Regions from separate parts of the Homo sapiens genome. Here regions 2, 3, 4 and 5 are each linked to region 1. Evidence: fine-mapped expression QTL. A gene starts in region 1. Each other region holds a variant in brackets. All regions are shown on one strand. Distances are from middle to middle. Region 1 holds the start of NME8 (NME/NM23 family member 8). Region 2 has its middle 51 kb from the start of ELMO1. Region 3 overlaps GPR141 (G protein-coupled receptor 141). Region 4 overlaps NME8 (NME/NM23 family member 8). Region 5 overlaps GPR141 (G protein-coupled receptor 141).

The links. PIP is the estimated chance that this variant, and not a neighbour inherited with it, causes the effect.
Region 2: its variant is fine-mapped to the expression of NME8 in thyroid (GTEx, PIP 0.96).
Region 3: its variant is fine-mapped to the expression of NME8 in whole blood (INTERVAL, PIP above 0.99). The same link has a PIP of 0.9 or more in blood mononuclear cells.
Region 4: its variant is fine-mapped to the expression of NME8 in whole blood (TOPMed, PIP 0.98).
Region 5: its variant is fine-mapped to the expression of NME8 in whole blood (TOPMed, PIP above 0.99). The same link has a PIP of 0.9 or more in monocytes.

The regions. Positions count from the first base shown.
Region 1 is chr7:37,845,888-37,850,994 of GRCh38, reverse strand. It overlaps NME8 (NME/NM23 family member 8), which reads right to left and starts at 2,398. Exons shown (of 18, transcript NM_016616.5): 1 at 2,267-2,398; 2 at 1,939-2,171; 3 at 696-735; 4 at 560-617; 5 at 260-366. The coding sequence starts at 728.
Region 2 is chr7:37,496,847-37,501,953 of GRCh38, reverse strand. No RefSeq gene overlaps it. Among named protein-coding and RNA genes, the nearest start is that of ELMO1, 51 kb to the right of the region's middle. The variant G/T (reference allele first, on the strand shown) is at 3,021.
Region 3 is chr7:37,720,596-37,725,702 of GRCh38, reverse strand. The region is part of intron 2 of GPR141 (G protein-coupled receptor 141); the gene reads right to left. Among named protein-coding and RNA genes, the nearest start is that of GPR141, 39 kb to the right of the region's middle. The variant A/G (reference allele first, on the strand shown) is at 2,172.
Region 4 is chr7:37,866,614-37,871,720 of GRCh38, reverse strand. It overlaps NME8 (NME/NM23 family member 8), which reads right to left. Exons shown (of 18, transcript NM_016616.5): 11 at 3,823-4,019. Among named protein-coding and RNA genes, the nearest start is that of NME8, 21 kb to the right of the region's middle. The variant A/G (reference allele first, on the strand shown) is at 2,287.
Region 5 is chr7:37,713,071-37,718,177 of GRCh38, reverse strand. The region is part of intron 2 of GPR141 (G protein-coupled receptor 141); the gene reads right to left. Among named protein-coding and RNA genes, the nearest start is that of GPR141, 32 kb to the right of the region's middle. The variant T/C (reference allele first, on the strand shown) is at 2,856.

The DNA.
Region 1 (5,107 bases):
CAATAGATGTGTCCATTATTACACTTTTCTGACTTTCACAGTCATGGTAAATAGCCTCGACGTTATAAGAATGGGATAAAAATCATATTCATTCTCAGATCTAGTAGAATTAAATATATAGTAAAACTGCCAAGTAAAGACTATCTATTTTGAAGAACTGACAGGTTGTTTAAATTAAGACAATACTTAAAGTATTAGAGGATACTTAAAAACTTAATATAATGTGAAAACAGTGGTTTAATGAAAACAAAATTCTTACGACAGCAAAATGCAGAATTTCGTCTTCGTTCAGTTCATTTTTCAATTTTCTGAATAAAGGTTGCATTGCTCTGCAAGGTCCACACCAGGCTTGGTAAACATCAATCACTAGAAGATGATGATATTTATGAAATAACAAAGTCTACCAATCTAGGATAGCAGTTATCCCAATCTGGAGCCATGGCCAGGGCAAAGGCACTGCAGGATTTCTTGGTCAAAGTGGGGACTCTAGAGGGACAGGGTGCCAGGAGGAGCTCCGGGTCAAACCCCAGGTGGCCAGACAGCCGGGGAGTCCTTATACCTGTTAAGCCTTTGTTCTGCAACATCTCATCCCACAGGCTTTGATTATTGATGACTGTCTGCAAAGTGGAAGGCACTGTAAAAGGTATTCAAGCACTAGTGCACCAGATAAAGAATTGTTGATATGTCAGACCCACCTGTAACTGGACTTCTCGTTTTTTGCTTGCCATTTATCTACTATCATAGGAAAAAGAAAGAAAAATTTTTAAGTAGGAAATTTAAATAACATTTTCTTTATGCATGCAAATAACATCTTTTAAAACAATTTTTAATTTTTGTGGGTACATAGTAGGTGTATATATTTATGTATCTCTGTATTTATGTACTTAAATATTTGTGTATTTAAATCTGAGATATTTTGATACAGGCATGCCATGCATAATAATCACATCAGGGTAAATGGGGTATCCATCACCTCAAGCATTTATCCTTTGTGTTACAAACAATCCAATTATACTCTTTTAGTTATTTTAAAATGTACAATTTAGATTTTTTGACTGCAGTCACCTGTTTGTGCTAGCAAATACTAGGTCTTATTCATTGTTCTTTTTTTTTTTTTTTTTTTTTGAGACATAGTCTCACTCTGTTGCCAGACTGGAGTGCAGTGGCACAATCTGGGCTCACTGCAACCTCCGTCTCCTGGGTTCAAGCGATTCTCCTGCCTCAGCCTCCAGAGTACCTGTGACTACAGGCACCCGCCACCACGGCGGGCTAATTTTTTTTGTATTTTTAGTAGATACAGAATTTCACCGTGTTAACCAGGATGGTCTCAACCTCCTGACCCGTGATCCTCCCACCTCAGCCTCCCAGAGTGCTGGGATTACAGTATTCATTCTTTCTAACTGCAAATAACATCTTAATGTACTAGTGAAAAATTTCCCCACTGTACATTGGATTATGCAGTGTCATCTTTGCTGGGGAGAGAGAAGCTAATGTCATGGAAGGACTATTGTATGCTAGGCTCTATGCTAAATGCTTATAGCTGCCACACTATCTTATCCTCCCAACAGTCCTGAAGCAAGGTAAGAATGTTAGGAGTTACACGTCGTCTGGTTTTTTTAAAGGTTTTGTTTTCCTGAAATATTAGAAAGTGTTTCCTATATTATCAATTGCAAACAAATGAACATGCCCGTGGATCTTTCTGGGGTCCCTCTTCAGATCTGGCTGCTCTAAGGATATTTAATCTTGAGAACAAGGCCACTAGTGTTTTCTGGGGCACGACATAAACTTCTCAAACTCCCTATTCAGTGGTATCAGGGGCGGTGTAGAACAGGGGTCAGTCAGCGTGCGGGCGATAGTGCACGCTAGCGTACAACAAAGGAAAAGCCACAAACAAGACTGTATTCCAGGAAAGGTGCTGGTTGCTCCGGCAAGCCTTACACAAAACAGGTCCTCCTCTAAGCTAGACTGGGACGTTTAAAGAAAAGGAAGGAACAGGCCCAGAGGATCTAAATCGGCTCCCTCGTTGTGGCCGTTTGAGCGGTGACCTCGGCGAAGTTCCATTCCAGTACCTAGGACCCTGGTAGGGCCCGAGGCTGAGGCTAGCAGGCCTCCTGCTGGGCTTTCTTCTCCAGCTGATTCAGCAAAAGGAAGAAGAGGGATTCCCTGCCTGTCTGGGAAGAAGAAGGGGGGCAATGTTTTGTCCAACCCATCTGCCCGTGAGACTTGAGCGGCGTCTCGAGGCCCCTGCTCCAGACAGCAGCTATACCTGGGCAGTGGGGACAAGACCAGGTGGCGCCTAAAATCCTCCACCTCTTCTGCCCACACAATGAAGGAACAACGAAGTCCTGGTTCCACCATCACAAGACTCTGTTCTTCAGCTGCCTCATCCCCAAACTCCCATCCCCCATCCTCCCATCCCTACGTTCCTCTATCCCCAGATGCGCACCAAGGTGCGCTTTCCCAAGTGCAGATTTGATCATATCTCTCCTCGCCTTTGAATCCTCCTGTGACTGGCCACGCTTTACAGCATAAAATGCATACACCTCAAATCGGAGCAGAAGGCTCTCTGCCAGCACCAGCCTTTTCTTTCTTTTTAACTTTGTCTTCATCTACCCTGGTTTGGTTCTTCTTGTTCTTCTTGTTCTTCTTCTTCTTCTTCTTCTTCTTCTTCTTCTTCTTCTTCTTCTTCTTCTTCTTCTTCTTCTTCTTGTTCTTCTTCTTCTTCTTCTTCTTCTTCTTCTTCTTCTTCCTTCTTCTTCTTCTTCTTCTTCTTCTTCTTCTTCTTCTTCTTCTTCTCTTCTTCTTCTTCTTCTTCTTCTTTCTTCTCTCTTCCTCTTCCTCTTCTTCTTCGTCTTCCTTCTTCTTTTCTTCTTCTTTTCTTCTTCTTCTTCTTTTCTTCTTCTTTTCTTCTTCTTCTTTCTTCTTCTTCCTTCTTCTTTTTCTTCTTCTTCTTTCTCTTCTTCTTCCTCTTCCTCTTCCTCTTCTTCCTCTCCCTCTTCCTCCTCCTCCTCCTCTTCCTCCTCTTCCTCCTCCTCCTCCTCCTCTTCTTCCTCCTCTTCCTCTTCTTCTTCTTCCTCTTCTTCTTCCTCTTCCTCTTCTTCCTCTTCCTCTTCCTCTTCTTTCTTCTTCTTCCTCTTCTTTCTTCTTCTTCTTCCTCTTCTTCTTCTTCTCCTTCTTTCTTCTTCTTCTTCCTCTTCCTCTTCTTCTCCTCCTCCTTCTCCTTCTCCTTCCTCTTCTCCTTCCTCTTCTCCTTCCACTTCTCCTTCCTCTTCTCCTTCCCCTTCCCCTCCTTCTCCTCCTCCTCCTCCGTCTCCTCCGTCTCCTCCATCTCCTTCATCTCCTTCTTCTTCTTCTTCTTCTCCTTCTCCTTCTCCTTCCTCTTCTCCTTCCTCTTCCCCTCCTTCTCCTCCTCCTCCGTCTCCTCCATCTCCTTCTCCTTCTCCTTCTTCTTTCTCCTTCTTCTTCTTCTTTCTTCTTCTTCTTTCTTCTTCTTCCTCTTCCTCTTCCTCTTCTTCTCCTCCTCCTCCTTCTCCTTCCTCTTCTCCTTCCACTTCTCCTTCCTCTTCTCCTTCCTCTTCTCCTTCCTCTTCCCCTCCTTCTCCTCCTCCTCCTCTGTCTCCTCTGTCTCCTCCGTCTCCTCCGTGTCCTTCGTCTCCTTCGTCTTCTTCTTCTTCTCCTTCTCCTTCCTCTTCTCCTTCCTCTTCTCCTTCCTCTTCCCCTCCTTCTCCTCCTCCTCCTCCGTCTCCTCCGTCTCCTCCGTCTCCTCCGTCTCCTTCTTCTTCTTCTTCTTCTTCTTCTTCTTCTTCTTCCTCTTCTTCTTCCTCTTCTTCTTCTTCCTCTTCTTTTTCTTTCTTTCTCTTTCGTTCTTTTTCTCTTTACTTTCCTTCCTCCCTCCCACTTGCAGCATCTGGAAATAATTTTTCACAATAGTTTCTGATTAATCCACAGGCTGAGATACAGAAAGCAACTGTAGAGTAGAGAGGGACACAATGAACCTTTTTGTAGGGATCCTCATCCCTGGAGTGGACCTAATAGATGAGCACGGCTACCTACAGAAGGATTTTTGACCAGGATCATATCCTATCAAGACAGGACATGTAGTACTCCTTCACTTCACCATCTGCAATTTTCTTTCCTTTTTTTTTTTTTATTATACTTTAAGTTCTGTGATACATGTGCAGAAAGTGCAGGTTTGTTACATAGATATACACATACCATGGTGGTTTGCTGCACCCATCAACCTGTCATCTACATTAGGTATTTCCCCTAATGCTATCCCTCCCCTAGCCCCCCACCCCCTGACAGGCCCCAGTGTGTGATGTTTCCCTCCCTATGCCCACGTGTTCTCATTGTTTAACTTCCACTTATGAGTGAGAACATGCGGTGTTTGGTTTTCTGTTCTTGTGTTAGTTTGCTGAGAATGATGGTTTCCAGCTTCATCCATGTCCCTGCAAAAAACATGAACTCGTCGTTTTTTATGGCTACATAGTATTCCATGGTATATATGTGCCACATTTTCTTTATCCAATCTATCGTTGATGGGCATTTGGGTTGGTTCCAAGTCTTTGCTATTGTGAATAGTGCTCCAATAAACATACATGTGCATGTGTCTTTATAATAGAATGATTTATAATCCTTTGGATATATACCCAGTACTGGGATTGCTGGGTCAAATGGTAACAAAAGCCAAAATTGACAAATGGGATCTAATTAAAGAGCCTCTGCACAGCCAAAGAAACTATCATCAGAGTAAACAGGCAACCTAGAGAATGGGGGAAAATTCTTGCAATCCATCTATCTGACAAAGGGCTAATATCCAGAATCTACAAGGAACTTAAACAAATTTACAAGAAAAAAACAAACAGCCCCATCCAAAAGTGGGCAAAGGATATGAACAGACACTTCTCAAAAGAAGATATTTGTGAGGCCAACAAACACATGAACAAAAGTTTTTCATCACTGGTCATTAGAGAAATGCAAATCGAAACCACAATGAGATACCATCTCACACTAGTTAGAATGGCGATCATTAAAAATAGTCAGGAAACAACAGATGCTGGAGAGGATGTGGAGAAATAGGAACGCTTTTACACGGTTGGTGGGAGTG
Region 2 (5,107 bases), 350 kb after region 1:
ATGTGGAAGTCAGGAACTCAGGGTTCCTATAAGAGACCTACAAGAGTGTTCATGTCATGGACTCAGGGGAAATTCACACTAAAGGCGAAGTTTTCAATTCTTTCCCTCATATGTTGCAGTTCCCTTTAATTCCTCTGACCCTTTAACCAACTTTGTGTCAGGTCACCACCTCCAATTCCCAACATGACCCATCAGTCTGCCATCAGGGACCTGTGAAGTGAGGGTCACAACACCAGTGCATTCCAGGCCAGAATGGGAATGCAATGAAAGGTCACCCACTGTGGTACGGAATAGATGCCACAGAGGAGCAGGGCTCAAGTGGAGGACTCAGGGGTGCATGGAAGACAATCTCCACCCCTCCCCAAATATGAGCAGGAAAGGACGTCTCATGTCATGAGAGAAGGTGACACTTGATGATATTAGTAATGCTGAGACAAGCTGTATGGTTTGTATTTCTGGCTCTGCCACTTATGAGCTATGTGACGTTAGTCAAGTTACCTAGCCTTTCTGAGCCTCTGTTGTATCATCTATAAATCAGGGATGAGAATAACACATTTCATAGAGCAGTTATGAGGATAAAACATATTAATATTCATAGAACCTTAGCAGTATCTAGAACTTGTAAACAATGAATGAGGCTGGACACAGTGGCTCACACCTGTAATCTCAACATTTTGGGAGGCCAAAGCAGGTGGATTGCTTGAGCCCAAGAGTTTGAAACCAGCCTGGGCAACATAGTAAGACTCCATCTCTACAAAATATAAACAAAAGTAGCTGAGTGTCATGGCCTATGCTTGTAGTCCCAGCTACTTGGGAAGCCAAGGTGGAACGCTTGCTTGAGCCCGGGAGTTAGAGGCTGCACTCGGCCGAGATTGTGCCACTGCTCTCCAGCCTGGGCAACAGAGTGAGACCTGTCTCAAAGTAAAAATAAAAATAAAAAAAAATAAACAATGAATGTGTTAGCTATTGTACTTACATAGTTATTATAATTAAAACTTTTTGTATTATCTGAATCTTTTTAAAGAGCACATAATTCTATTAAAACATAAATTTATAAAAATATATATTTATCTTTATTAAGCACCTACTATGTTCTAGGCTTTCATTGTACAGTATTATGAATATACTAAATGCCACTGGATTCTTTGCTTAAAAATAGCGATATTGGTAAAATACACACACATTACATGAAATTCACCACTTAAATCATTTTAAAATAGAGAACTCAGTGACGTCTAACACATTCACACTGTTGTGCAGTCTTCACCACTGTCTAGTTCCAGAACATTTGCAGTGCCCCAGAAGGTAGCCCTGTTTTAAGCATCATTTCTCATTACTGTTTCCCTCAGCTTCTGGTAACTGCTAGTCTGCTTTTTGTCCCTGTTTCTCTATTTTGGACATTTCATGTAAGTTGAATTATACAATATGTGGCCTTTCATGTCTGACTTTTTAAATTTACTATCATTTTCTTCAGATTCATCCGTATTATAGCATGTGTCTGTATTTTATTCTTTCTTATAGCTAAAATAATATTTCATCATACGGACATACACATTTTGTTAATCTCTTCATCTGTCCATGGACGTTTGTGTTATTTCTACCTCCTGGCTGTTGTGAATAGAGCTTCTATAACCATGCATGTGCGTGTATTTGTTTGAGTAACTGTTTTCAATTCTTTGGGGTATATACATAGGCATGGAATTGCTGGGTCACATGGAAATTCTATGTTTAATCTATTAAGGATGCAAAGTATATTTTTAAGTAAAGAAAATAATTGCATAATAATATGAGAGGCAATAGAGAGTAATGGAGCCACAAAGCAAGGGTTCGAATCCAGGATTCATCACTTACTAGCTGTTGTCACCTTAGAAAACTTATGTCCTCATTTTCCCATCTGTCAATTGGCAGTAATACTAACCCCTATCCCACCAGGTTGTTACAAAAATTAAGGGAATTAATATATGTGGTATAATTAGAACAATGCACATGATGTACTTATTTTGGTTTAGTTCTGTTTGCATGCCTATGTATAGACTATATACGTAATTGTTTAAATCAAACTATTAAGACTGGTTGCCTTTGGGAAGTGGATTTGAAGGATAAAAGACAGGGCCCTGTCAGCCGGGCGTGGTGGCTCACGCCTGTAGTCCCAGTACTTTGGGAGGCCGAGGCGGGCGGATCACTTGAGGACAGGAGTTCAAGACCAGCCTGGCCAACATGGTGAAACCCCGTCTCTACTAAAAATACAAAACAATTAGCCGGGCACGGTGGCAGGCACCTGTTATCCCAGCTACTCAGGAGGCTAAGGCAGGAGAATTGCTTGAACCCAGGAGGCGGAGGTTGCAGTGAGCTGAGATCACGCCATTGCAATCCAGCCTGGGCAACAAGAGTAAAACTCCATCTAAAAAAAAAAAGCAAAAGACAGAGCCCTGTCCTCTTTTTATTTTGTCTGTGCATTTCTCTCTGTAATGAGCATGTATTAGTAGTCACAATATTTTGAATTAATGAGGTTTTCTTTTTAAGATGCAAAGTGACCCATTCAATGACTCAAAACCCTTCAGTGATCTTATAGCAGTGGTTCCCAAAGGCCTTCATGCTGGCTGGACACATAAAATCACTTAAAGAACTTATCCAAAATACAGATCATCCTACTCCTCATTTGGCCTTATTGAATCACAAGTTCTGGTTGATTCTAATGTGCCATGATGTTTGAGAACCAGAGAGTCTACACTATTTCCATGACCTGGTCTCTCAGTGTCTTTCAGTTTCATCTTCCCGTCTTCCTTCCTAATAAAGCTTCCCAGCCAGGCGCGGTGGCTCACGCCTGTAATCCCAGCACTTTGGGAGCCTGAAGCGGGCAGATCACCTGAGGTCAGGAGTTCAAGACCAGCCTGACCAACATGGAGAAACCCCGTTTCTACTAAAAATACAAAAATTAGCCGGGCGTGGTGGCACAGGCCTGTAATCCCAGCTACTTGGGAGGCTGAGGCAAGAGAATCACTTGAACCCAGGAGGCGGAG[G/T]TTGCAGTGAGCTGAGATTGTGCCATTGCACTCCAGCCTAGGCAACAAGAGTGAAACTCCGTCTCAAAAAAAAAAAAAAAAAGCTTCCCACCTATTATTTGACATGCTCTTCTATGCCTCAGGATGTGTCTTTGCCTAGAACGCAAGCCCCGTTTAACTTTGTTCTTTGAATTACTAACCCCTGTTTATTCTTCAGTACTCAGTTCAAGCATTTGTCTCCTCCAAGATCCACTGTTATCAAATGAAGTATGTCCAACAAATGAAATACTTAGTCTGTCCGAAAATGAAGTAAATTTCTTCTCTTTTGGTCTCCCAGAACATTCTTTAGCAGTAGCTCAAAAACATCTTCTCCACATACATTGAAACTGTTTTTTCCCATGTCTGTTTTTGCTCCCACCCAACTGAGGTCTTGAGGGCAGAGACAATGTGCTGTGTAGCGATTCTTAACTAAAGATTTCACCATGAAATGAATAGTTCAATTTTATAATAAATACTTAAGTGTATATATATGTGTATTTATACATATATAATTATAATTATATATGTATAATTCACAGTAAACTATGTAGTAAATTACAGGGCACAGAGAACACTGGCCCAGTTTTTCCAAATTCATATTTAATATATGCATGCAGATATTTGTGCATGTGCATGGGAATACTTCTGAGTTAAAATAACCTCTGAAGCCAATGTTTCCTAAAGCCAGTTTCTAGAAACACTAGTGTCAGGAGCTCCTCAGTGAGAAGAAAGGATTTCATTGGTAATGAAATTAAACACTCTACGATAGCCTACACTAAGAGCATTTCTGGTCATGTTATTTGACCACAACACTATTTCAAATACATCTATGAGCATTCAGAGAAAGTAGAGTTCTGCGGACCCACATTTTTAGAAATGCTGCATAACGTACTTAACCAGTTCTTTTTCTGAAGTGACAGAGTGGTCACGCTTAGTTGTCGTGGCATGGTGTGGAACAATTTCCATTGGAGTAGGCCACGCTCTTACTATGCTCTTACCACCACCAGAAGCAAAAGACACTTTCCAAGTGGCAGTCTATTTCGGGACAATCTATTTTATATTTTCCACCACTGAGAATTCCACTCTGCTTTCACAGGCAGTTCTTTCAGCTGAATGAATCGTGTTTTCTCCTTTGGGGGCGTGTGTAAATGAATTGCTAACCGTTTTGAATAGCACCCATCTGTGACAACAGTCATGCTTATGGGTGGCAGTTAATTAAGACAGCTTGGAAGATGACGATGTCTTACAAATAAGAAGGGAAGAAACAGGGACTGTCTTTTTTATAGAGTCATATTTATAATATCATAATTATTGTATGTATTTATAGTATTATATTTATTGCTTGTATTCCATTTTCTTAAATTAAGGTATAGTTTTGGGACTATCAAAATGCACTCCTAATTTATAATGTTGCATGGGACAAGGACAGAACTTGGCTTCTCCTATTTTATTCCTGAAATCTTAGAACAGGAAACCCTACACTATCCATTTATGTTTGTGGCTTTGCATTCAGCATAAAATTAAATTTTCTCTGGCATCATTTGTCAAGAAAGCTTTTAAAGCAGTGATTTCCCTGAGTTCCTTATGTAGGCAGCCCATCTTCATTTTATTTTATTTATTTTTTTGAGATGGAGTTTCACTCTGTCACCCAGGCTGGAGTGCAGTGGCGCGATCTCGGCTCACTGCAGCCTCTGCCTCCCGGGTTCCAGCGATTCTCCTGCCTCAACCTCCCTGGTAGCTGGGATTACAGCCATGCACCACCATGCCCAGCTAATTTTTGTATTTGTAGCAGAGATAGGGTTTCACCACGTTGGCCACGCTTGTCTCGAGCTCCTGACCTTAGGAGATCCGCCCGCCTTGGTCTCCTAAAGTGCTAGGATTACAGGCGTGAGCCACCACACCCAGCCTGGTAGCCCATCTTTAAAACCACCAACATCACCCAACAAGTGTGGGACATCACCCAGCAAGTTATATCTAAGGATAAGGAACAATGTGAAAGTTGAGAGTTAGAAAGCTGACCAATTTCAGAACAAACCGTCTCTCTAACAAACATCTTATTACAAAATCAG
Region 3 (5,107 bases), 130 kb after region 1:
TAAAAACCACTGAATTGTGGTTCACCAACCATAAAGTTGTCCTTTGAAAAAAGAATGACTTTTATAGTTGGTGAATTATATTTCAGTAAAGCCATTGTGCAAAAAAAGAGAGAAAGAAATTGCGTCTGAGCTGAGCCTTGGGGATGAGGGAGGAGGGGGAGAATTATTGACAGAGAATCAATGCTGCCGGTGACTGCCTTCATTCATTCATATCAAGGGCAGAGCAGGAAACTCCCTGGTTAGAGGACTAGGAGGATGCCGTGCCAGGAACCAGGAGCCCTGGATGCCTCACCCTGCTCAAGTTCGCAGGCCTGGTCCCTCTGATGTGGCCGCTCATTCCTCCTTGCTCCCCGCTCCATCCCTGGCTTCACTTCTTTCTGCTGCACCTTGAACAGATGGGACTGCAGATTCACCTTCTTGATTCTTGACCACTCAATACAAGGAACCAGCCCTACCCAAGCCATGTTCTTCATAACACTGATCACTGTCATCTCACTTTTTCTTTGTCATTCTCTATATTCACCCCTTCTTCCAAGAAGAAAAGATCCATGAGAGTGGTCATGGTGTCTCCATCTCCAGGAGAGAAGGAACCCTTGGACCAGGAATCAGAAGAAAAAATCACAAATTCTTAGTGTCAGAGTGAAACCTAGAGATTATAGCATCCAGTGCACCCATTTAACTAAGGAAGACACCGAGGCCCACACAGCGACCTTTGAAAGCTAGCACGGCTTGTCACTGGCTAAATTCCAGGTTCTGTGTCTCAGTCTGGGACTATTCCTGTGACACAGCACTACTAAAGGCAGACTCCAGAGGCCCAGCAGGACAGACGGCAGCTTCTAATCAAGAGAACTATGCTTTAAGTCCAGCCCCATAGGCCCCACCTCAAGGACACCAGTTGGGAGCCAGGATGGATGTCCAGCCCCAGCTAGAAGAGGCATCACAGGTTGTTCTGAGAAAAGGTTGTCAGCAGACAAATGGCTTCCTGCCTTTGAGCTCTCCTTAGAACGAATTATAGTTTGTTGTGTTTGCAGAAAACAAATAGGAACAGTCACTTTAATCACTCACTCAGGGAAACTCAAGCAGCAGTTCATCCAAAATATATTGAGAAAAGATTCTGGGATGGCAGCTCCCACATTAAGGACGAGCTCAGTGTAGCTAAAAAACCAAAACCAAAAAAATCTGTCTGAAAATATCTGAAGCAGTGTGGGAAACAATAAAAAAGAAATATCAACTCTAAAGAAATTCACTGCAGAAGGTTATATGCCTAAGTAACATATAAAAATTGCCCCCTGCTTTGTTCATATTCGAACTCTCTCTCACAGTCCTCCTCCTCTGTACATCCTATTTCTGAAGTTTGAAAGGACTCTCTTGGGTTTTCTATGGTTTTTTTAATAGCAAAAAAAAATGTATATATATATTTTTTAGGCAGTTTCAAGTAAAGTTAGATCTGCAGCCTCACTCATCAAAGACATCATTTTTCACCAAAGAGCAGGCTTCTGGATTTGAGCTATCCTTTCTCTCCTCACTTGAGGAGTTCACCATTGCTGCTGACTCTCTAAAGGTGAGGATGCAAGTTCTGGTTACCTACAAGGGAAGTGGGAGCTGAAACTCAGAGGCTTTGTGTCTGTGTAGAGTGAGCCACACTGCTCTGCAAGGCACCCAGGGCACCCCTGCTGCCACCCATGTTCTCGAAAATAAGGAACTGTCAGTGAGTTCTTTCCATTCCCAGGGAGAGCCTTGCATAGATCTGTAGGTCTGCAGATATTGAAATGTGCTATGAATTCTGATCTTTGTGAATGTCCATCTCCTTACCAGAAATTTTGCTTCAAAGAAATCTTTCATTGTCCAGGAACTGTGCTTTATTCTCAGAAACTGTTAAATCTGGGGGACTGTGTTCCTGGCATTCCTGAGTGTCCAGTGCTACTACAGCCTTGTTGCCACCTTTGACACACCATCTGGCCTACTTAATCCACCCAACCTCAAAAGACAGAGAAACATGTCTATACGGACATGTAAGGGACGAGGCCTTCAGACAGGCAAAACGTGGTATCCAACAATGCTGGTAACTTCCTTGCCTCCAAGCCTCCTTATGGCCCATGAAGCACTAAAATGTGATAGAGCAAGAATAGGACATCACTAAAGGAGGCTGCTTTTCACATCACCATTTCACA[A/G]GATTCACTCTGTGCTTCACCCAGTATCATAGTTTCCTCCCTCCCTCACCATGTCCACTTCAGGCATTTCACTATCTGCTTGCTCATCTTCCGTGCCATTCACTTTTTTTTTTTCTTCCTAGTAACTTCTAGGGTTTTATTTCTTTTTATTTTCTCAGTGTTTCTGGTATTTTTTATATTAATAAAAAAAGAGGCAACTAAAAGGCACTAAAGAAAAATTAGGCATTTCTGGACTCTTAGGCCAGGCACGGTGGCTCATGTCTATAATCCAGGCACTTTGGGAGGCCGAGGTGGGTGGATCACCTGAGGTTAGGAGCTCAAGATGAGCATGGCCAACATGGTGAAATCCCGTCTGTACTAAAAATACAAAAATTAGCCAGGTGTGGTAACACACTCCTGTAGTCCCAGCTACTCAGGATGCTGAGGCAAGAGAATCACTTGAACCCAGGAGGCAGAGGTTATAATGAGCCAAGTGGTACAAGATACCACTGTACTCCAACCTGGGCAACAGACTGAGACTCTGTCAAAAAAAAAAAAGAAAGAAAGAAAGAAGGAAGGAAGGAAGGAAGGAAGGAAGGAAGGAAGGAAGGAAGGAAGGAAGGAAGGAAAGGAAAAAGAAAAATTAGAACAGAATTTTTCCACTTTTTAAAATATTAGTGTATTTTCTGCTAATATCTTTCTATGCATCTGTGTTAGATTGTTAGATAGTGATAATATTGCACCTCAATTTTCAAACCATGTTTTTTGCTAGTAATGTATAATACCAAAGTACTTAGCCTTGGAGTTTCTGAACTTTTTTTTTTTTTTTTTTGAGATGGAGTCTGGCTCTGTCACCCAGGCTGGAGTGCAGTGGCATAAGTTGGCTCACTGCAACCTCCACCTCCTGGGTTCAAGCAATTTTCCTGCATCAACCTCCCAAGCAGCTGGGATTACAGGCACCTGCAACCATGCTCAGCTAATTTTTGTATTTTTAGTAGAGACGGGGTTTCACCATGTTGGCCAGGCTAGTCTCGAACTCCTGACCTCAAGTGATCTGCCCACCTTGGCCTCCCAAAGTGCTGGGATTAGAGGGGTGAGCTACTGTGCCCGGCTTTTTTTTTTTTTTAAGAGAGGGAACCTTACTATAGTGCTTAGGCTGGTCTCAAGCTCCTGGCCTCAAGTCATCCTCCTGCCTCAACCTCCCAAGTAGCTGGGACTGCAGATGCAAGCCAGCATGCCTGACCTGTTTCCGTGCACTTTTATACGACCGTATAACATCTCATCAAGTGGATGTCTCCAAAGTGATTTAATCAAATTTTCAATGATGTTATGTTTCTAACTTATTGTTATAAATAACTCTAGGACAATCACTTTTGTGAATTTAGTGTTTTACATATTTTAGATTTTTCCAGAAGGTGGTGTCCAATAAAAAAGTGGTCATATGACATGAAAGTATTTGTGGATATAGATTAATAGTGCCAAGTTGCTTTATGTTGACAGACATGAAATATTTCCTTAAAGTCAAAAGTTTATTTCTGCTTTCTAATTTAAACTATTCCTGTCAAGAAGTTTTCCAATATGTTATCCAGATGACTTCAATCAACCATTAATCTTTATTCACTGTAGGTGAAATATACTTGTAGGCAAAATTCTGAAATGAACAAGACAAAAAAGGCTGTGGATAAAATATATCCTTCAAGTAACCCATTGCCCCCTGAGACAGACACCATACTTTCAGGCCTCCACAGTCTAGGCTGACAGTGAGAGAAGACTCTCCCAGAAGTTCTAAAAATTGTGTCTCCACTTTACACCCAAACAGAGACGTGGAGAAATTGTCAACCTTTGTCTTGGAGCCCAATATAATCTGCCAACAAGTTCAGCTGCCACGCCAACAAAAAATCTAGGGAGGACCAAGAATGGAAAATAATTTTAGGACACGTTGGGCATGTTTCTAATGGGCATTTCATCTGTAGAAGTAACCAACATCTATGGATGGAAAACACCACACCACCAAAGGGAAAGCCGTTCAGAGAAGACCTTTCTTAAATCAAAGCTACTGAGACATTAACCAGGCCAATCTGTCCAAGATAACCCTTACTCTGTCTTCAGCCCCAGGTACCTCTAGGTTTATGCCTTTTCACCAATAACGGGCACATCTATTGTAGCATAATGTATTGATAACTTTTGTCACCAGGTCCTGAGTGCCTCTTCAGTTCCTGGCACTAAGATGGAAATTTCTTATATGATACTTATAATCCTCCCAAGAAATCCAGGACAAGGGTACTTTTATTCCAAATATTAGTTGAAGAAATGAAGCTCGGAAAAGTTAAGCAACTTTCTGGGTTCACTCAACTAACAAATGACAGCCCTGAAATTGGAGACCCAGGCTGTTTGACTCTGAAGCCTAAATGTTCTGCAGCACATCACAGGGTCACAGCAACACAGAAGTCCCTTTCCTATGAAAAAAGAGAAAAAGTGACATTTCTTCACTGCTCCATCCCTGCTCTCCTTCGGAGCTGTGGATTCCCCTAGACAATTGGTCCTTGTTTTTCAACTGTATTGTTTGTATCTCTATGACCAATTATCAGGGTATTGAAAAGCAGTTAATTAGAATACTAGAAGAGGACTTGGAGAAGTAATTAAAACAGGCCTACTCAAGTTCTCTAAAGCCAATAAATGTTTGAAAAGCAGTTCATCAGATTGCAATGTAAGAGAAAAATAAAACTGCACTAAAAATTTAATTCCCCAAATTTAATGTATCCCAGAGAGGGTTCTGAACCCTTTTCTTAATTTCTCTTTTTTTTTTTTTTTTTTGAGACGGAGTCTGGCTTTTGCCCAGCCTGGAGTGCAGTGGCGCAATCTCAGCTCACTGCAAGCTCCGCCTTCCGGGTTCACGCCATTCTCCTGCCTCAGCCTCCTGAGTAGCTGGGAGTACAGGTGCCCACCACCACCCCTGG
Region 4 (5,107 bases), 21 kb before region 1:
TACAATATAGTAGAGGTGGTTGGAAATGTCACCTTCACTCTGTCATAAAGACTTAAACTGAAAGTGAGCTCAGAGGTCATCATCTAATTCTTCCCCATCTTTGTATCTCTAGGATTTGGCATATAGTAGGTCTTTAATAAATACTAGATGAATGAATCAACACATAACAGAATAAGTGAATGAATGAGAAGACTCTGCCAGTTACTACCTGTGTGACTCTGAGCAATGTAGCTAATGGAACCACACCTTCCTGATCTGTAGAAAGACTGGAAAGCAAAGATAAATTACACTATCCTTTGATTTCTTAAAACAGGCTGATTAAAGAGACAGACATGTAAATAATGTAATAAAAAGCCATCATGAAAGAAGCTGGAATGTGAATGACAAACATGGGTACCTCTGCCCTGTTTCCCTGGCTCTTCCCCCACCCTTCTGCAGCCACTGGAGCAGGCAGACCATCGATGGCATGGAGAGAGTTTCCCCACAGCATGTGAATTCATAAGCTGTGAGTGTTTGTCTCCACAGGAATAACCAGCCAATAAAGCTCTGGGACTCCGCTGCTCTGTACGCAGAGGGGTCACCAATCACTCCCAGTTCAATTGCTCTGCTTTTAACTTCTCTCCTGTCTCACCCTCTCCATCCCCACCACCCAGAGAGGAGAGTGAGCAGGCTGGGAGATAGGGGAGAGGGGGCAATAAAGAGTGAAAGTGAACAACTGAATAAATTACGCATGAGAGTTTTTTGTCCTTATTCCTTTAGATTCTGGACCTACTTGAAAGATGTCACATGGAAGTGACAGTGCCTATCAGGCCCTCCCTCCAGAGCAAGAGCTGTGAAAATAAGAACAAGCATTATAGAAGTCAGGGGAAAGCTTCCCCTCTGTCCTCTCAAGTTTTACTGAAAAACCAACGGGCATCAACAGACAAAAAGTATATTAGTTGGAGAAAAAGCAGACAAATTTGATTAACATGTACACAGAGAGAACCACAGAGTGAGTACCCACCCTGCAATGAGGTTCAGAAGCCTATAGACCAAGCTTGTCCAACCTGCAGCCCACTGGCTGCATGAGGCCCAGGAAGGCTTTGAATGTGGCCCAACACAAATTGGTAAACTTTTTTTTTTTTTTTTTTTTGAGATGGAGTCTCACTCTGTCACCCAGGCTGGAGTGCAGTGGCTCGATCTTGACTCACTGCAATCTCTACCTCCCAGGTTCAAGCGATTCTCCTGTCTCAGTCTCCCAAGTAGCTGGAACTACAGGCATGCACCACCACACCCAGCTAATTTTTGTGTTTTTAGTCGAGACTGGGTTTCACCATGTTGATCAGGCTGGTCTCGATCTCCTGACCTCATGATCTGCCTGTCTCGGCCCTCCAAAGTGCTGGGATTACAAGCATGAGCCACCGCACCCGGCTCAAATTGGTAAACTTTTAAAAACATTATGATATATATTTTTTGCGAGTTCTTTTTTTTTTTTTAAGTTCATCAGCTATCATTAGTGTTAGTGTATTTTATGTGTGGCCCAAGACAATTCTTCTTCTTCCAGTGTGCCCCAGGGAAGCCAAAAGATTGGACACCCCTGTTATAGACCATCTGGCAAAACAGGTAATGGGAGCAGGGAGAAGAATTCTGTTGAAGGACAGTAAAGGATGACGAGGGAGAATGAATGGACCAACGCACAGAAATTAACTTGTACACTATCTCCGTTCAGATGTGGTTACATTCTTGGTCTTATAGGGAGAGGAAGAAAAATAATTGTTCCTGTCGGATCTGAGGATCTTAGGCAGATAAAAGAAATTCAGCTTCATCCTGTGCTTTGAGAGAGACTGCTGGCCGGGAGTGCTGGGGCAAGTCAGAGAGATTGTGAGGCTTTTTCAGTTCAGCATGTCAAAGCGCCATATTTTGAGTATCAGTTTCTGAGCCCGAGCACACCAAACAAGCATGCTCCACACTGTCCCATGCTGTCTGCTGTGGCCAGCTTGGGATAAACATGGGCCAAAGGCACATGGGGACTCTAAGTTTAGAAAGGAAATACTGTAGACTGTGCCAGAGCAAGGTGTACACATTTCATTTCACTCTGATCTGGCCCCTATAGTGCTTGCCCTTGTTCTGGAGGGAGAGCTGCTGGCATTTCCTTCTGACATGCCAATTAACATGCCTAAATTGTCCATGGTGTCATGCGAGTATTGGACAATTGGAGCTTCTCAAAGTTGGTTGTAATGGAGGTTTACTACCTAAACAATAGCCCCATGGAATGATGACTTCACTCGTCACATTAATGAGTGCTTC[A/G]TAGAACGCTTTTTGTTTTTTGAATGGCTCAAAATTTCTAGGATAAAATCTGGTATCTTTTTAAACTTAACACACCCTACCCAACAAACCTTCCCTCAGCCCACTCATTATTATTTTCCCTTAAAACCCTGAAAGTAACTGCTACTGTTTAAAAAGCTCCTTGCCAGCAGGATTTACCTTATGAGTTCCTTTATCCTGCGTACAACTTGGAATTAATGATATTAGGATCTCCCACTTCCTAAAAATATGGCATCACTAGGAGCCAACAGAGGTAGGCACCCAAGAAAAGCCACTATGATTCATTAATAAGTCAAGAAGGACCAACAAGGGACATTCTGGATAGTCTCAGCCAGAAAATGCAATGGAGATGGGCTGCCAAGCACGGGGAGACACATCCCAGGAAGCCTCAAGGCTCAGATACTCTAAGTATGTTCTTGCTCACCTGACTTTCTTTCCGGTGCAGCCTGACAACTGCTTTGTTACACTCTCCATTCTCTGAGTCTTCAGAGGAATAACAGGCGCAAACAGCAGCGCATAAAACCAACATTCTACAAATTATTTATATCCATTTTCTAATATTTTAAAATCCATCAACAAAAAATATACAACCGTTTTGTTCTCAGTAATTTGTAACCACAAACCATCTAAAGTAAAAGTGCATGTTTCATGTTTTTAGGGCACCGGGAAGGTGGAAGGGGAAGGTGGGGAGATGGGAGAGGAGACTGAGTTGGCAGGGATTATACATGGTTCCAATACACCCTTCAAGCCCCAGCCCTTGTGGCCAGACTGGTATGCCCAGCTCTAGGAAGACAAACAGGGAAAAGGCCTCCCTTTCTAGTGTTCTTGACATAAACTTTCAGGGCAGTCACAGTGAGGGGAGCAAAGATCACCTGAGGGCCACCAAGCTGACTATCCAGAGGCAAAACTCCTTATCTGAGGAATTTAGAAGTAACTAGACTTCCCTATTATTTAAAGCTGGCATCTGGTACCAGGCTTAAAAAAAAAGTTATAAGTAACTAGAATTTCTATACATCTCCGGAATGCATGCATGTTCAAACTCATTGTGCAACCCTTGCTGACATCAAGGCACCAACATGTCTACAAGTGCAATTATTTATCATGACCTGTGTGGCTAATAAGGTCCAAATTACCCTTAAGCTCCAGCTTTAAGGTCCATAAATATCCCTAAACAAAAATCCACCATGGCGAGCTCAGTCCTCTCTCACTGAGGAGCCCCGCTGCACTCTTCTGCAGTGCTCTTTCTATCTAACAAAACTTTTCTTTCAAACCTACACTGTCATCTGTAAATTCTTACTACCCTACAACCCACAAGCCAACTACTTTTTCCAATGCCAGGTATCTGACACTTCACCTGGCACACAGCTCTTCTGAATATACAGTATGTTAGGTTGACTGGAAGAAATACTTATGCCTTTAACATAAAAACATTTGCCCTTAGGTACTGAGGTGCCTACACTACGCTTCATTACCCAATAACACATTGCAAGTAACACAATTCCTGGTCTTGAGCTATACCTGTCTTGTTTGTTCTTCATCATTCCAGGTGTAACCTGGGCTTCGACCTCAGGTTGATCCTCAGATCGTTCGTTAGGTTCGGTGTCAGTCTGTGGTTCGGTTTCTTCAGAGGGAGGATTGTGTTTACTTCCTTGAGATACAACTAGAATATAGCTTAAGCCACTTGTCATAAAAGAGACAAACTCTTCGAAGTCACACTACAAAATAAAATGATAAACTGTTTCCTTCAGGCTCCTGAAATGGATGGACTAAAATGGTGGTCACTACCCAAGTCAAATGAAATCTTCCCTCTCCATGGTCCCTGGGCAAAGGAATGTTACTCTTATAAATCTCCTGTTAACAATACATTTTTATTGTTTGGGGGTTTTTATTTTTGCTTTTTATTGAAAAATAATTGCATATATTCATGGGGGACATAGTGATGTTTCAATAAAGAAAATGTATAATAACCAGAGCAGGGTAAATTTGTATCCTTAGAAAAATAAATCTCTTGGACCCCAAAATCACTAAGCCAAAGGGAAAAGTCAAGCTGGGAACTCCATCAGGCAAACGTGCCTCTCATTTTATTCCTAAATAAGATTGCTACAAAGATTAAAAAAAAAAAAGCTACATACCTCCCTCATAATTTGTCCACAAGGAAATTCCTTGTGGGCCTCAAGATCTTTACCCTAAAACAGTTCTGTTGGATTTCACCCTGGCAATGTAAATTGATAATTGATAGCTTATCTTCACTGGTAGGGGACAGAGGACAGACAGAGCCAAAAGTCATCCCGCTGCTCACCAGACACAAATGCACATCTGATGGCTTCCTCTGCTCAGTTGTTTATGTAAAAACGCAGATTCACTAAGCAAGACTAAGGCATAAGTGACTATTCCTCTATGTCATCTCACATGTAAATCGTGTATTCAGTAAAAGCCTCATCAGAGACTCAGAAGAATGCTATTGATTGTCTCTTATCTACCTAAGACCTGGAAGCAACCCTGCTTCAAGTTGTCCCACCTCTCCAGGAAGAACCAATGTACGTATTACACATATTGATTGATGTCTCATGTCTCCCTAAAATGTATAAAATCAAGCTGTGCCCCGACCACCTTGGAAACATGTCATCAGGGCCTCCTGAGGCTGTGTCATGGGCGTGTCCTTAACCTTGGCAAAATAAACTTTCTAAATTGATTGCAACCTGTCTCAGATACTTTTGGTTCACATCTTTAACAAATCTCTCCCTATCCCTTCCCAGTCACTAGTCTCCTACATTTTTAAGTGGCAGAAGTTCAAAGCTAGTAG
Region 5 (5,107 bases), 130 kb after region 1:
TTCCTCACTAGACTATAGTCCCCATGAGGGTGCTGAGAGTGACTATTTAGTTCATCACTAGCATGATACTAGATACCTAGTAAACACCAAATACTTTGCTGAACATTTGCTGAATTTAGGGCTTCTAATCACCCTTACTAGTTATAAACTTTTTAACAATTCTAACTTTCAATATAATTGACTTATTTCACCCCAGAGAGAAGAAAGAATACTTCGCAAGGCAATTAGACCAGGGGATCCACTTCCTGGTACATTTATCACACAATTATATTTAACAATTATACTCATGAGCAATGTAAACAATCAGATTTAAGATATATGTGTTTGCCCAAGAGATGTATAAAGATTGTTCAGTAACGAAGGAGGGACACACAGTAAAAGAAGAGCAGTCCTGCCCTCAAGGAGCTTATAATTTAGTGAAGGAGACAGATGCATGTTGTAGAAATTCATGAAGGTAAAATAAGATAGTGCATCAGAGCATTGTTGTGGGAGAACAAGCCAAACTGGGAGAAGGGGGAATCTGAGAAGGCTTCATGCAGGAAGCTGGTTTTGGAGTGACACTTAAAGGCAGAAAGGATTTAGTACACAACAAGGGGGGTGAGAGAAAGAAAGAGGGGGCAGAAAATGTCAGGGATGGACAGCATGAGCCACAAAAGGCAGGCACTGATATGGAAACGTTTGTTAATGAACAAAGTGGTCTTCTCCATTATGGTCTGAAATGCATCAATCAGCAAATACACAACCTCCACCTAGATTTTGACTATCTACTCCTCCTTTTTCAGAAATGTCCTCAATCCTCTTAACCTTTGGGGGAAAGGGAGATTTCAATAAGAAATATATTTGCAATTATCTTTTATTGGTTCAGTTTTAGGCCACCTACTTTAAATGTAGAAGAAAGAAACTGAGCTTTCCTTTTGTAGCTTTGAAAACAGCTTTTCATTCTTCTTCTCGCAAGCCCTCATGCATATTTTCTGAACCACATTCCCTCATAGTGTCTATTATGTATTTAGGAAATGAAGCAAATTTTCACCTTAGTGGAAGACACACATAATTAGCAAGGCCTATCTGTCCTCAGATGCACCCATGGTTTGGACATGGCTTGATTCTCTTTTGATCATATCCATCCTGTAAATTTGAGGCTCTTAGATAGAGGACCTCTCACCTATCTTCCTGGGAAGCTTACATAGAGCTGAGCCCTTTTAAATGCTCACAACACCCTCAGCCCCTTGGCAGGCACTTTATCCATCTCCAATCTGTAAAGGAAAACCCTCCCCTTAATACCTAGAAACAAAGAATTTGAGTTGAAAACTTAGCTGAAAGCTCAGGTATTTTGTGTCTTCTTTTAAAGCAAAAGAGATATAAGTAAACAAATACAGTTGAAACTTTATTCAGAGATAGAAATTCTTAAGAAGGAATCAGATAAGCTGACAGAAAATATACTTTGCAATACACTGGTTCCCTGAGCAAACAGCTAACTCAACAAAGAATATAGAAGTTACCATTTTTCAGCCAACAAGAAATTATACTTTTGTCCACACACTTCTGATTTTTTGACCACACTTATTGGAAAAACTGATCCCAAGTAAAACAGTGAAATTGGGTAATTTTTGTTCTTTGGAGCCCTATATTTTCTACTAAAACCCTGGGCATTACCTCTCCTCATCTTTATGTCTATCTTATTCCCTAACAAGTCTTACTCTCCCTGTGTCCCAGTTTCTCTCAGCATCATATCACACAGAGTTAAAAAAAATTCCTAAGTACCCCTTCTAGCTCTAAGAAATCTTTCACCCCCTTTGAAAATTTTCCATTATTTGTACCAAAAAGTAATTCTCCTTCTCACTCTAATAGGTAGTTGCCACTTTTATGTCACAGCATTTCAGGTTTTGATTATAGTTATTAATTTAGCTCCTCCCTCTCCATAATAAATTATAGGCAGCCTGGACAGGAACTATGTCTAATTCTTGTCAGTTTCTCCCACCGTTCTTAGCAAGCGTGCTCTCTAGATGCGTCTTTGAAAGAATAAATGATGTTGTGGACAGCTGGGTTTGCCTGGCTCCCAGACTCCCATGTCTGTCTGCCTTCCTCAAAGCCTGCCACTTCCATTTCAAGATCCACGTCATTCTGAAAAGTTGACTCTGTCTCAACTCCAAGGATGGGATTCTTGACTTGGGCTATGTTAAATGGAGTAGTGCATTTCACCCCCGCCTCACCCCTAATCACAATTACTAGTTTGGGCTGCACATAAGGCTTATGGTGGTTTAATCAGAATGAATTTCAGGACTCGTTTCAGGAAGGGTGTCAAAGGCAAATTCTCTTGTTTTAGGTAGTGGAATGTGTGCATTGGCGGCCTACAAATGCTGCCACCATGTTATTAACATAACAGAGGTCAATATTTAAACTAATACTCACCTCCTGACGCTAATACCTGCTGGCCACAGTCTTCTAGGGATCTGGTAGAAGAACAGTGTTTTAATATGAAAGGAAACAAACAAAATTTCCTATCAAATTTTGAACCCATCAAAGCCTGACAACCAAAAAAGCTAAATTAGAGATCTATGCAGTTTGCATTATCAAAATGCCATTGTTTCTTCATCTGTAATATGGAACTAACATTGCGATAAACTAAGTAAAGCACCCAGCGTAAGACTGGATGCTGAACAATCACTCCATAAACATCATGTTTCCTTTCCTTTTCCTCCTCATCTAAAGGTTTGGTTTTTTTTAAAGGAGGAAAAAAAACACTATTTAAAGGAGAAAATAGACTGGGCACAGTGGTCCCCAGCACTTTGGGAGGCCGAGGTGGGAGGATTGCCCAAGGCCAGGAGTTCCAGACTGGCCTGGGCAACATAGTAAGA[T/C]CCTTTCTCTACAGAAATAAATTGTAAACAAGAATTAGACACGTTTGGTGGCTCACACCTATAGTCCCAGATACTCAGGAGGCTGAGGCAGGTGAAGTGCTTGAGCCTAAGGAGTTCAAGGCTGCAGTGCGCTGTGATCATGCCACTGCACTCCAGCCTGGGCAACAGAGTGAGACTCTGTCTCTAAAACACAATCAAATAAGATAAATAATAAATAAAAAACTTTAAAACCACTAACATATATCAATAGCCAACAATTCTTGTTAATAATAAATAAAAAACTTTAAAACCAGTAACATATATTAATAGCCAACAATTCTTGTTATAACATGTTTTGCAGAATTCAGGATAAAGACAAATAATATCCAGAAAAGAAATGCTATTTTCTAACTTTCATGAAGATAAAACTAACCCAAATCAGGACTCATAGGGTTTTTTGAAACTCCTAATGCTTGAGACACAGATGAATGGGAAGCCATTGCAAAGAACATAATAGCTTACATCCTGTTTCCACACATCAAAGTAACTGCCATGGCGTAACAGTGCTTGCTACACGAATGGCATATGAAAACAACATGAAGAAAAATAAACATGTTTTTGGACCATATCTTTACAGTAAAACATATTCATTGGAAAGTGAGGACAATGGAAGGGAAGAAATTTCAATTGGCTTTCTTCAAGGTTATTTAGATAAATTGAAATTAGTTTGACTTCTTTTTGGGTTATTCTTTAACTTAAATTGTCCAAGAAGTTAGGTAAACGACCACTAGTAACAAGAGTCCCAAGTTATTCAAAAATCCTTTTATAAACCCAATACTCTAGAACCTAGTGGGCCGTATGGCTGCATAGTAACTATCCTCTGCCATCTTATTTCTATGTTATTGCAATGTGAAGAACACCCATGCTATTATTATTCCCAAACTCTTCCAGAACTGTATAAAGAAATATAGTTCTTTAGGTCCAAGTTCACTGGCTAGTTCCAGTAGCAAAATTATAGACTCTCACACCTTCGATTACCATGATTAAACATAGTAATTGAAATAAGAGAAGAGAAAAATATACAGAGTCTGCATCCCAGTCCCTGTAAATCTCTTCACTTCAAAGTACTAGTCCCTGCAGCTTTACAGAGGATAATAATAACACGTGTTTCCACACTCACAGGCTCTCAAGAGAATAAAAAGAGATGGCACTAACACTTGCCACCCAAACATTCTTTACTACATCTCAGAGAAAAATCTAAAAACTCAAGTATATGGGTAAGAGGACGGGACATGATGAAAAAAAAAAAGATAAGTGAAAAATAATAGAAAAACCATTGGCTTCATAGCCAAACCAAACTATGTGAATTCTGATCTTATTACCATTTCATCCTTAAGCAATGTATTTAATCTTCCTGAGTTCAGTTTTGTTTACATAATGGGGATTGCTCAATCAATACTGCAGTATTGTTGTAAGGTTTAAAGGAGATGACAAACAGATATAAAGGATTTAGTGTAGATTCTTCCATTAGAAGGTTCTCAATATGTGGCAACTAAAATTACACAGGAGAGAAATAACGTCTCAGTCACGTAAATATATAACTGATGGGTATTCTGCAGAATGAACTGGAGGCTTTTTCACAGCAACTTTAAAGACATAGTATCTTTAAAGTGGCAGAACAATTGCAGATATAGAGTCTGAGAATTTTAATTGAGTAATACCATTCAAGGCAGACAAGTATAGCTTTGGAAGCATGAGGAACACAGAAAAGAATTAGAAGAATCTATACACAGAGAAGCAAAATAATTCTGAATAACACCAATCAGATTTGGATACATTGACTAAAGTGTTTTAACAGTTTATTCATAGGAAAGCATTATAAATTAACATCAGGCCAGGCACAGTGGCTCACATCTGTAACTGCAGCACTTTGAGAGGCCAAGGTAGAAGGATTGCTTGAGCCCAGGAGTTTGAGACCAGCCTGGGTAACATAATGAGATCTCTAAGAAAATAAAAAATAACAATAAAAAATTAGCATCAGAATCTAATGGTATTTTATCTAAATTTTCTTACATGTATTTCACTTAATTGATAACACATGGTATATATTTGTGTTAGGGACACTATTTGCCCAATTCTTCATGCACTGCCTATATGAACATTTCCTGACATATAACTTTGCAGTTTCTTCCACTGTAGGAGCATAATGTACTTCTGGCCCTCTTGACCCTGTGTTTGGCCAGGTGACTTGCTTTGGCCCATAGACCAAAGTG